Homo sapiens: one gene and its partners. The protein of the gene in region 3 purifies or fractionates together with the protein of the main gene of each other region. This does not show direct contact. Each region holds a gene or a part of one and is shown on either strand. Other genes may lie near its edges. The genes, in order: PTH2R, RNF10 and NCOA4.

What was found.
Region 1: the proteins of NCOA4 (region 3) and PTH2R purify together in Homo sapiens (co-immunoprecipitation; one large-scale study listed by IntAct). This does not show direct contact.
Region 2: the proteins of NCOA4 (region 3) and RNF10 purify together in Homo sapiens (affinity purification with mass spectrometry; one large-scale study listed by BioGRID and IntAct). This does not show direct contact.

Annotation. Positions count from the first base shown.
Region 1 is NC_000002.12:208,441,140-208,444,791, reverse strand, and holds part of PTH2R (parathyroid hormone 2 receptor isoform 1 precursor), read right to left. Parts: intron 2,429-3,652; coding exon 2,331-2,428; intron 1,445-2,330; coding exon 1,255-1,444; intron 59-1,254; coding exon 1-58. UniProt on the Homo sapiens protein: This is a specific receptor for parathyroid hormone. The activity of this receptor is mediated by G proteins which activate adenylyl cyclase. PTH2R may be responsible for PTH effects in a number of physiological systems.
Region 2 is NC_000012.12:120,561,797-120,565,448, reverse strand, and holds part of RNF10 (E3 ubiquitin-protein ligase RNF10), read right to left. Parts: intron 2,505-3,652; coding exon 2,379-2,504; intron 2,118-2,378; coding exon of another isoform or gene 2,103-2,117; coding exon 1,826-2,102; intron 1,640-1,825; coding exon 1,506-1,639; intron 378-1,505; coding exon 260-377; intron 22-259; coding exon 1-21. UniProt on the Homo sapiens protein: E3 ubiquitin-protein ligase that catalyzes monoubiquitination of 40S ribosomal proteins RPS2/us5 and RPS3/us3 in response to ribosome stalling.
Region 3 is NC_000010.11:46,017,098-46,020,749, reverse strand, and holds part of NCOA4 (nuclear receptor coactivator 4), read left to right. Parts: intron 1-750; exon of another isoform or gene 751-1,427; intron 1,428-3,652. UniProt on the Homo sapiens protein: Cargo receptor for the autophagic turnover of the iron-binding ferritin complex, playing a central role in iron homeostasis. Acts as an adapter for delivery of ferritin to lysosomes and autophagic degradation of ferritin, a process named ferritinophagy.

The DNA of each region.
Region 1 (3,652 bases), on a different chromosome or scaffold from region 3:
AATAATAATTTGTAGCCAGGAAGTAAATAAACATCACAACAGCAATCTTGCACCCGATCTATTACAAATAAACCAGAATTTCATCATATTAGAACACTTTGTTGTACTGGATGCCAACATTAGACCACTAAAAAACAAGTCTTCAGTTTCTTTTTCAGGCTAATATGTCTCCTTTACACAGTAAAGTCAAAACTGTTGAGAGGCCAAAACAGTTATTTTAATGCATCATTTTTCAAGACTATGAACTTGATTCTATTTTTAAAATAAGTTTTTTCTTTAAGAAGTTACCAAAAAAATCACCTTTTCTCAATTTTTTCACTTTATAAAAATAATACACGACCATCACAGAAAATTAGGAACATATAGAAAAGTATAAAGAAGAAAATGTTACCCATATTTTTAGCTTGAATTTATTTTATTTTGGTCTTTTATGCAGCTATTGCTGCAAAACAAGCTGCCCCCAAAGTTAGTGACTTATAACAATAAACATTTAACATATCTTAGAAATCTGTGGATGGGCTGGGTAGTTCGGCTGATCTGGGCTAGGCTTGTCTCGGCTAGGCTCACTGAGTAGAGGTCTACTCTCAACTGCTACACTATTGCGTCCACTTCCTTCTGTTGGGGAAAGCAAGTCTCAGTGCCAGCCCAGAATCAGAATCAGCAGGGACTATAAAGTTACAGGGCAAAGGCACAGATCCAGACAGGGTATTAATTCACACCATCAAGACAATCAATCTACTATACCTAATTTCAGATATATTGCTTCAATGATCTAATTGAGTGAATTATTGGATCAATCTATTTACTACCACCAGGACATTCAAGAGCAGAATCAAGTAACATAAAATTTTATATTGGAACAAGTCTTCGAGTACTCAATAAAGGGACTAAATATCATGGGCTTTTAAATTGCAAGCTTCTGGTTTTGCTGATGGGATTTTTACTTTCGAAAGTGGTGAGCCCCATGACAGTTGCTGTGGTGCCTATGCCAAATACCATTCCAATCTTGTGCATTTTGCAGTTTCCATTCCAGAATATTCTTGAGGAAAAAACCCAAGAACTTTTAATAAAATGATTGATTAGACATGAAAGGACAGAATTGAGGGAGAAAACATCACTATACAAATTGATAATCCATTTTAGTTAGTTCAGAGATAAGTAAAAGCAAGTTAACATGTTTAGTGGACTGTAAAATTGTACTTATTTGTAGTGTTATACAAATTAGTAATGAGAGAAAATGGTGAAAACACTTACATATTGTGATTTGTCCACAGAAGTTGCCTCAATGGAATTTTGTGGGTCATCCTGCATTATTAGGGACTCCAGCTCCTTTACTCCTATGTGAGCATGGACTACTCTGTCTTTGACAAAGATGCTTGTAGCTCTCAGCATGAAAGACACAAATAAGTGCATGTGGATATAGTTCCTAGTGCAATGCAATCGTCTACGGAGAGAAATATTCAGTATTTAAATTTGGATAAAATTAAAAATGGGGGAAACACCCAGTGCGACTGCTGCCACCACCAACCAGCCTGCTCCCCTCCAGCAGGGACTGGTTCGAGACTCCACACAAATTCCAAAATCTGCAGATACTCAAGTCCTTTATATGATATAGTGCAGTATTTGCACATAACCTATGTACATCATCTTGTTACTTTAAATCATCCCTAGATTACTTATAATACCAAATACAATGTGAATGCTATGTAAATAGATGTTATACTGTATTGTTTAGAGAAAAATGACCCAAAAAATAAGTATGTAAATGTTCAGTATGAACACAACCAAACTTTTTTTTCTGAGTATTTTCCATCCACAGTCTGTTGAATCTGGGGATGTGAAATCCCAGTATATGAAGGGTGACTGAATTGGTGCTCAAAATTTTGTAATGATTTCGATTAAGTTGAATGGAATTGGACACATGTTAAAGTGGATAAAAAATAAACCATAACAAAAGCAATAAATACTATTTCTTTATGTGCTGGTATCCAATAATTTGGGAGATTATTTAAGATGAATTTTTGTCCAATAGCACCAAAATCTCTCGGGAACTCATTCAATTCGATGCTGTCTTACTTTGCAACAAATATACTTCAGTACATACTTATTGGGTTAAAGGTTTCATACTACTTTGATACTTTAAGTTTTTAAACAAAGAACCCTGAATTTGTCATGAAAAATTAATTGTCAAATAACATAATAACATTAGGCTGAATTCAAAAACTTGCATTTGAGGAAAACATTTGGAAAATATTGTGAGACCGCTATGTCTTCTCTGGATAGGAAAGACAATGTGCCCCTTCATGGAAAAAGTGATGGGCATCACTCACCTGAAGTAACCAATGATGAGAATAGCCACAGCCAAGGAACCAAAAGAGATGGAGTAGCCAACGGTATACATTACATAGAGGCGTTCAAAGAATTCTTGCTGCAAGGGAAGAGATGCTCATGTATGATATGGGACTATTTTACCAATAAACTGGCAAAGAAATAGTATGTCATTTTTGGAATCTTATTTCTAATTCTCTTTAACTTTTTTAAGCTGTAATTTGCATGCAATAAAATGTAGAGATCTGGAGTGAGCATTTTGATAGGTTTTGACAAACCAAGTTCATTTGTGCCCCTTGCTAGTCAAAAAAACACCCACTATCCACCCCCAGGAAATCACTGTTCCAATATCTGTCACCACAAATTAGCTTTCTCTGTTCACATACTTCATATACCTCTTGACTATTCTTAGACTTCTTAGGATTACATGTTACAGTATATACTTTTTTATCAACATACTGTTTTTTATATTCATCGATATCGTTACATGTATAAATAGTTCATTCCTTTTCAATTATTTTGTTTTAAAATAATTATAGATTCAAAAGAAGTAGAAAATAGTGTAAGAAAAGCCCCAGGTTCCCTTCACCCAGTATTCTCCAAAGCTTACATCTTATGTAATTTTACTAAAATATCAAAACCAGAAATTTAATATTGATGCGACACGCATATTTATAGTTCTATGTCATTTGATCATATGTACATTTTTGTAACCATTACTGTAATCAAGTACAGAACTATTTCACCAACACAAAGTTCTCCTTGTTCTGTCCCTTACGGTGACACCTCCTCCTCTCCACCATGCCAAACACCTGGCAACCATTAATCTGTTTTCTGTCTCTATAATTTTGTCATTTCATAAATGTCATATAAGTAGAATTATACAGTATGGGATCTTTTAAGATTGGACAATGGTGTAGAAATGTGATTGGACAAAAAGGATGTAATCTAATACTAATAGACTAAATGGGGAAACTCAACAAGCGTTTTCCATGTTTCAATCAGGCTAATCCAATGAAGCCTCCATAAAAGGGCCAAGAAAATGGGATATAAAGAGCTGCTAGACAGCTGAATTTACGGAGGCTTGCAGGAAGGTGAACCAGAACTCATCCATTTACCAGAAGGGTGGTGCACCCCAACTCCACCGGAACAGAAGCTCCTGCACTTCAGACTCTTCCAGACTTCGCCCTATATGTCTCTTCACCTGGCTGTTTATTTGTATCCTTTAAAATATCCTTTATAATAATATATAGGAAACGTAAGTGTTTCTCTGAGTTATGTGAGCTGTTCTAGCAATTAATCAAGCCTAAAGAGGGGTTCGTGG
Region 2 (3,652 bases), on a different chromosome or scaffold from region 3:
GTTTCCTCTTCTCAATGTCATCTGCAGATTGGTCAGGTTGTAAAGAGGTAGACCCAGGACAACATGGTCATTACCTCCTCCCAGTATTAGCAGCTAAACCCACAACAGTAGGCCCAGCTGGACTAGATGAACAGATGAAGTGTTTAGGAGGTACTAAGACTCATGATACAGTTCCATAAGTTTCCTCCCCCACTGGGTGTCTAGCCACAAGAATCCCTGAACCCTACTATAAAGAGAAGCAGAGCAGGGGCATTCTCACCTGAGAACATCTCTAGGGTTTCCTTAGAGACCACAGGAGGTTGCAAAGCCAGTTCACAGATGCTGAACTCACAGGTGAGTGGCAAGTGAGAGAGATATCTGTGACGCTGTCGAACATCCTACATTGGAAAAAGGACCAATACTCAACAAAAGCAAGCCTAACTCTGAAAGCAGGGGGTCCTAACCCCGATATCCAACAATATATACATAACACAGCCAGCACTGGGGCTGGAAACAGTAGTGCTCAATTATCCTCATTTTGAAAAGCCAAAGAGAAACTGTCAACCTACAGCAAGGTGGAATAAGCAACCAAATCCAGTTATTTTTGGTTTGTACTGCAAAGGAGTGAACTGAGTCCAGCAACAAATAATCTAAAGCCCATCAGCTGTTTCTGATTTTTTCAAGGCCCCACAGCTGAGGGGGACGAACAGAGAAGATAAAGTTATTTGTTGGCAGAAAAACAGAACAGAAAAAAACCTGGGAACCACTGACAGAATAAATAACTGGGAAGGAAGATAAAGCAGATCTCCCTATTGAAAGACACTTGGCCTGAAATAGTAGAAAATGAAGCCCAATTTTTTTTTTCTGAGACATGGTCTTGCTCTGCCGCCCAGGCCAGCTCACTGCAGACTTGATCTCCCCAGCTCAGGTGATCCTTCTGCCTCAGCCTCCTGAGGAGCTGGGACAACAGGTGCACATCATCATACCCAGCTAATTTTTTTTTGTATTTTTTGTAGAAATGCCCTGGCTGGTCTGAAACTCCTAGCCTCAAGCAATCTGCCTGAGTAGGCCTCCCAAAAGTGCTGGGATTACAGGTGTGAGCTACCACATCCAGCCCATTTATTTTCATTTCTATTCTTTTTCTGCATATGTTTGATGAAAAATTTATAGTACTCAAAGAGTCTAATTTTAAATCTTACAACAAATTTGTGACATTTCTCCCAAGCAATAAGGAGGATAAGAAACAAAAATAAACTCCATCTTAAATAAAAGAAATATCTATATCCCCAAACTACAATCAATGAACCAGAGAAGCAGGGAACAGCATTAACTGATTTAACAGAACCCTGGCATGCTGAGGGGACACTTCACTTACAAAGAATTCACAGCACCATCACTGACAGAAAGACTAAAAATACAAAAACTAAAGGCCTTGAAGGTTTGTGAACTTAGGATGGCTAGGCCTACCTCAAAGAGATTAGGTTAATACTGCTGCCTGACCCTCCATTTCTACAGGAAGGCCTCACCTCAGACATGGAGTAGCCAGCAATCTCCACCACAGTTGCTGAGATCTTCTCGGGGCTCCTCTCCAGGCTGCCGTACTCCCGCACGAGGCAGCGCACATTCACAGGGTGCAGGAACATATGCTGTCCATCTTCCGCTGAGGACAAGGGGCTCTATCACACACCAGTCTTGGCCAGTCCCCAGGAGGCTCCCCACCCCTCCCCATGCCCAAGGGCTCAAGCCACCCAAGCCACAGGATCTAGTGGCGCTCCTCTGCTTAGAGCACCGGGTCACCTCTGAAACACCTCTGCGGCAACCCAGCCCTCTCTTCCGGCACCCTCACCTTGGTAAAAGTAGTAACAAGGAGAGCTGCTGAGGCGTGTGAAGCCTGACTTGGTGATGGGTTCCTGCTGGCTGGACTCAGTGCAAATGGTCCCCTCTTTAAGATTGTCATCTGCTAACTCCAAGTCATCACAGGCCTCTGGCAACCCCTCAGGCTCTGGTTCAGACACTGCTTCCTCCTCTTCTACCAGAGGGAGAGCAAGAGGTCTAGAAGGAGTGTCCAGAGAACAAACTTCCGTGGTTTCTTCATCGAAGGCAGACAGATACTCCAGCACACCCTGTTGCAGCAAACTCTAAGTCAACAGAAAGGATATCTCCTGCTTTCCGAAAGCAATGTGGCAAATGCAGACCTAAGAGCCAAGCTCCCTAGATGTTTATCTTAGCTGTCGTGTTCACTGATTTAACACCCCTGGGGAAAGAACTAATAACAAGCATACAGAAAATACTCATTGTCCCCTCTTCTCTTGAGAAGGTTTAGATCTCACAGTAATGCCTACCAGCTCAATGACAGCATTTGAGGAACGGCAGCCACTTAGTAACAGGAACACACTAACCTTCCTGGGTTGAAAAACAGACTCCTTCGCCAAGGGAGCCATCAGCACCAGTTGTTCCAGAGCAGCCACAACACCAGTGACCTCCCTTCTGCTTCCGGCCAATCCCGACAGAGCCTCTTCCCGAGTCTAACGTGGCCAGAGAGAACACCAGAGAAGGTTAAGTTTCCAGACACACACTTAGCTTGAAGGGCAAGGGCTTAGAATGGCCTCTCAACAGGACCAAAAGTTAAAAGGCAATGAGACCCAATGGGAAGGAATTAGGTGCTTAAATATCTCAACTTTGAGGGAAACAGGAAGCAAAAAGCATGCAATACCCACTAAGGATTGGAATCTGCTTAGAATCTGACACTGGGGAGTGTAAATTAGTTCAATCATTGTGGAAGACAGTGTGGTGATTCCTCAAAGACCTAAAGACAGAAATAAAATTTCACCCAGCAATCCCATTACTGGGTATATAGCCAAAGGAATATAAATCATTCTACTGTAAAGACACATACGGCCAGGTGTGGTGGCTCATGCCTGTAATCCCAGCACTTTGGGAGACTGAGGTGGGCGGATCACCTGAGGTTGGAAGTTCAAGACCACCCTGACCAACATGGAGAAACCCCATCTCTACTAAAAATACAAAATAACCCAGGCATGGTGGGGCATGCCTGTAATTCCTGCTACTCAGGAGGCTGAGGCAGGAGAATCACTTGAACCTTGGAGGCAGAGGTTGTGATGAGCCGAGATCACGCCACTGCACTCCAGCCTGGGCAACGAGAGCAAAACTCTGTCTCAAAAAAAAAAAAAAAAAAAAGAAAGAAAGAAAAAGAAAAACCAAATATCGCACACATGTTCTCACTTCTAAGTGGGAGCTAAATGATGAAACATGGACACATAGAGGGGAACACACACTGAGGCCTATCAGAGGGTGGAGAGTGGGAGGAGGGAGGGGATCAGGAAAAATAACCAATGGGTACTAAGCTTAATACCTGGGTGAAAATCTGTATAACAAACCCCCATGACACAGGTTTACCATGTAACAACCTGCATTTGTACCCCTGAACTTAAAAGTTAAAAAAAATAAAAGAGAATCTGACACAAACAACACTATACAAAAAACTTCCAGAACAGAAATCTAAGAACATGAAACTAACCTAGTTTTTACAAACTATGCTCAGACAGAGGTCCAGAGTAGTAGGAAGGATTTAGCTAACTCCACCTCAGCCTGGACAGCTCTAATTCTATGTAGCCTTTCTTATGCCTGTAATGGCATTTGAACAAATACGGCT
Region 3 (3,652 bases):
TCAAAAATATCCATACTTGGTATATATTAGAGGATTTAGACTATTGAGTTTTTGGAGTAAATAAAAGATTGCCTTTTGCTGTGCTGTATAGTGAAAGACTAGATGGAAATCTAATATTTATTAAATAAGCACGACCTCCTTACCCCTAAGTCTGTGAGTCTATATTCCTCACATATGAATTAGGAAGTTAGGTTCCACAAGGGCAAATGGTGCAAGGTCATAGCCCTGATAAATGGCTAAAGGATTCTGTCAGGTCCTGTTCACAGCCTGTCAGCTAAACCTGATAACAATAACCACTGCAATGTGGAGGGCTTACGGTGTGCAGGTGCTAGGCTAAGTGCCGGTAGACATATAATATCTCACTTTAACCTTACTGCAGCCCCTCTGTAGCAACCATCCTTGTCTCCCTTTTTCCTGAGGAAGTTGAGGCCCAGAGAGATTATGTTACTAGCTCAGGGGTCTCAAGCTTGGAGACACAGCCATAACTCAGGTTTGTCAGACTCCAGAGTGACCTCTTAACGGTCATGCTTGCTACTCTGGCTCTTGAACCTGAAACAAATGGTGAATAACTGTTGAAAATGGCCATGTGAACTAGTTACCTCATACAAGTCTCTTTGGATGTAACATTTCGTACAGCTGGCTTAGGCTCATTGTGATTTGAATTCACCCATGGTTGGGGCTCTTCATTTCCGCTCTGAAGGCTTCCTCTTCATCACAGTGCAAGAGGGCAAGCCTTTGCATAGCTCCTTTCTTGGCATCTGGGCTCTGAAAGCTGACAGTGCTCTAACTGCGCCACAGGGAGGAGGAGGGACAGAGAGAGCCAAAGGCAGCAAAGGGGCAAGCATCCTGGGACTTACCATAAAGAAATGAAACAGATTTTCTTCGTGGCTGACAGATGAGTTCTCAAGATGACTTTTGAAGGATAACACTCCTTTTAATTTGAAAAAAATGTGATAACTGTGTGTGGAAAAATCAGTTTTGTAACTTTTAAATCTCATCCTACATTCTGTCTATAGCTGATAAGGGCAAAGTCCAATGTGTGAACTCTTGCTGTAGTCTACTCTTATTGTGTAATATTAATACTTGTGATTGAATTGAGAGGACTTGCTTTAGGAATCTAGTAATACAGTCAGCACTGTATGTATTTGAGTTTGTCTCCCGTATGTTCCGGAATTCTGGAGTTTTGACATTGTGAAGCAACAATTTAATTTTATTGATTCAATTTTACACTGTGCCAGGCATTGTGGCATTCCACACAAATGGTGAGAAGCTAAAAGTGAGAAATTTGGCACAGGTGAAGAAGGCTGGGTAACACATTTGAAAGACTGCTAAACAGGTCTTGCATGACTGGCCTAAGTGCAAAGTGAAGCAGCCCATCACGCTCCAGCTCTCCAAATCGGAGCCGGCATTTCACCCATGTGATACAGGTATTTTTCATAGTCCCTGCAGTGAGTTCCAAGTGCACACTAATGCTTCTGCCTAACACAGGCAGCTTATGGCATGCAAAAGGAGGCTGCAAAGTAACCACTGTTGGTGTGTCCAGGGTTAGAAAAATTTCCACAGGGATTTCTGTGAAATCCAATTAAGGCAGCCCTTTCTTTTTAATAGATGATTATGGAGAAAAGAGACTGACGAAACAAAATCAGCAAGGGGAAGTTAAAAAATTTCCTGAATTGTTCAGTTTCTTGTGGAAACTCTAGTTCCTGAATCTGAGTCTTTTGCTGAGATAGTGTACAGAAAGTTTGTTTTGCTGCTCTTCCCACTTCCCTCAGAATACATTATTTCTGAGGGAAGAACTCACCACTTTTGTCTCTAGCCAGCTTTCAGTTAGGCACCTGGCCCTAAACTTAGTCTTAAAGATGCAGTCAAGGCCTGGCAAAGTTCCTTTGTCTGAAATGGGCAGTCAAGCCACTTGGAGGACTCTACACTGGGTAGGCCACTTTTCACCCCAAAGCTGGCTTCTCCAAGAAAGTCATTGCTTTCAGGACTGTTAGGAAGTTATTTGATATATTGCCTAACATGCCTCCTATTAATGTTTTTTACCCCCTTGTGTCTGTTCCAAACAAATTTAGTTCTTCTAGTTGACAGGTCTCCACATACTTGAGAATGGTAATCATGTCCTCCTGGAGACGTCTCTTATCTAGGCTAAACAGCCTTCCTTCCTGGAGAAGTGTTTCATGGTTTTGAGGCCTCTCTCCCTTTTCTAAGTGTCCTCTTCTAAAGTGTGTTACTCAGAAATAAGTTTTGAATTTAGTCTAATAAACATGGAACAGGCTAATCCTGTGACAAACACTATACTTTTGGTAAATGTAGTCAAATAGTGTGTAAGTTATTTTTTCCCACAGACCCAGCACACTGCGAATTCATAGAGAATTTACTTTCGGTTAAAAATTTCCACCCTTTAAAAAGGAATTATTCTCTTCCTTGCCCTCCCTAATTAAAGTGAAAAAACTTACATTTTGTTTTGTAAAATTGAACAGCTATGTAGAGATTGTTTTGGGATCTGTTTCTGTCACAGCCCCATGTTACCTCCAGCTTTAATGTTTGTCTTGTGTGTTTTCATACAGGTAATTAGGAAAAACAGGGATGTGCCTCTCAAAACTTTACAAACTGGCCTTAGTCTGTCATCCTTTGAGTATTTTGTAAAAAATAATCTTATTATTCAGTTTAATTGTGCTTCTCTTTAGCTAATATTCACTTTTTCCACAGTGATAACATATAGTCTTGCCACAAGTCTTCTGTCATCCCTTTGTGTCTACAGCATTACCTTGACTTGCCAGTTTAGTAAAACAATCCAAAAGGAAATAACTGGTATCACAAGGCTTAGTGAACCTATTCTGAGCTCTAGTAATCACTGCTGTCATTTTCTCAGTGTTTAAAAATCATGTCATTGTTCTTGCAGTAGCTTTTGTCAAGTTTTACGTTATGGCTTTACTGACACTCATGTGTTACAGTCTCATTTTATCATTATATGCTGTTCTTCCCATTTGTGTTTCCTTTCGCTCCTAAACCCAAGCTTCTTAGAGAACTCTGTATTTACCCACACCAATTTCTGTGTCTCCTTTATATGAGAATCATGAAATCATTTTGTCACATATAATCTGTTACATATAATGCACATTCTTTTATATATTATATATTACATATATTCTCTCTATATAAAACATGTATCTCTATATCTGTTATATTCTTTTTTGTTGTTGTTTTGAGACAGAGTTTCACCCTCTTACCCAGGGTGGAGTGCAGGTGCAATCACGGCTCACTGCAGCTGCGAACTCCTGGGCTCAGGTGATCTTCCCATCTCAGCCTGCCAAGTAGCTGGGACTACAGATGCACACCACCACATGTGGCTAATTTTTATATTTTGTAGAGACGGGGTCTGGCTATTTTGCCCAGGCTGGTCCCGAACTCCTGGAATCAAGTGATCCACCCACCTTGGCCTCCCAAAGTACTAGAATTACAGGTGTGAGCCACCGTGCCCGGCCCTATGTTATATTTTTGAGAACTTCCTAGCTGTGAAGTCATTCTTAAGTTCTTCCTAAATAAAAAAAAAAGTTCTACCTAAAAGGGGGAAATTAAAAATTCCGTCTTCTAAACAAAGTGTTCTAAACTTGATTGTTTGCAGCTTATTTTGAAAGTAATCAAAGATCCT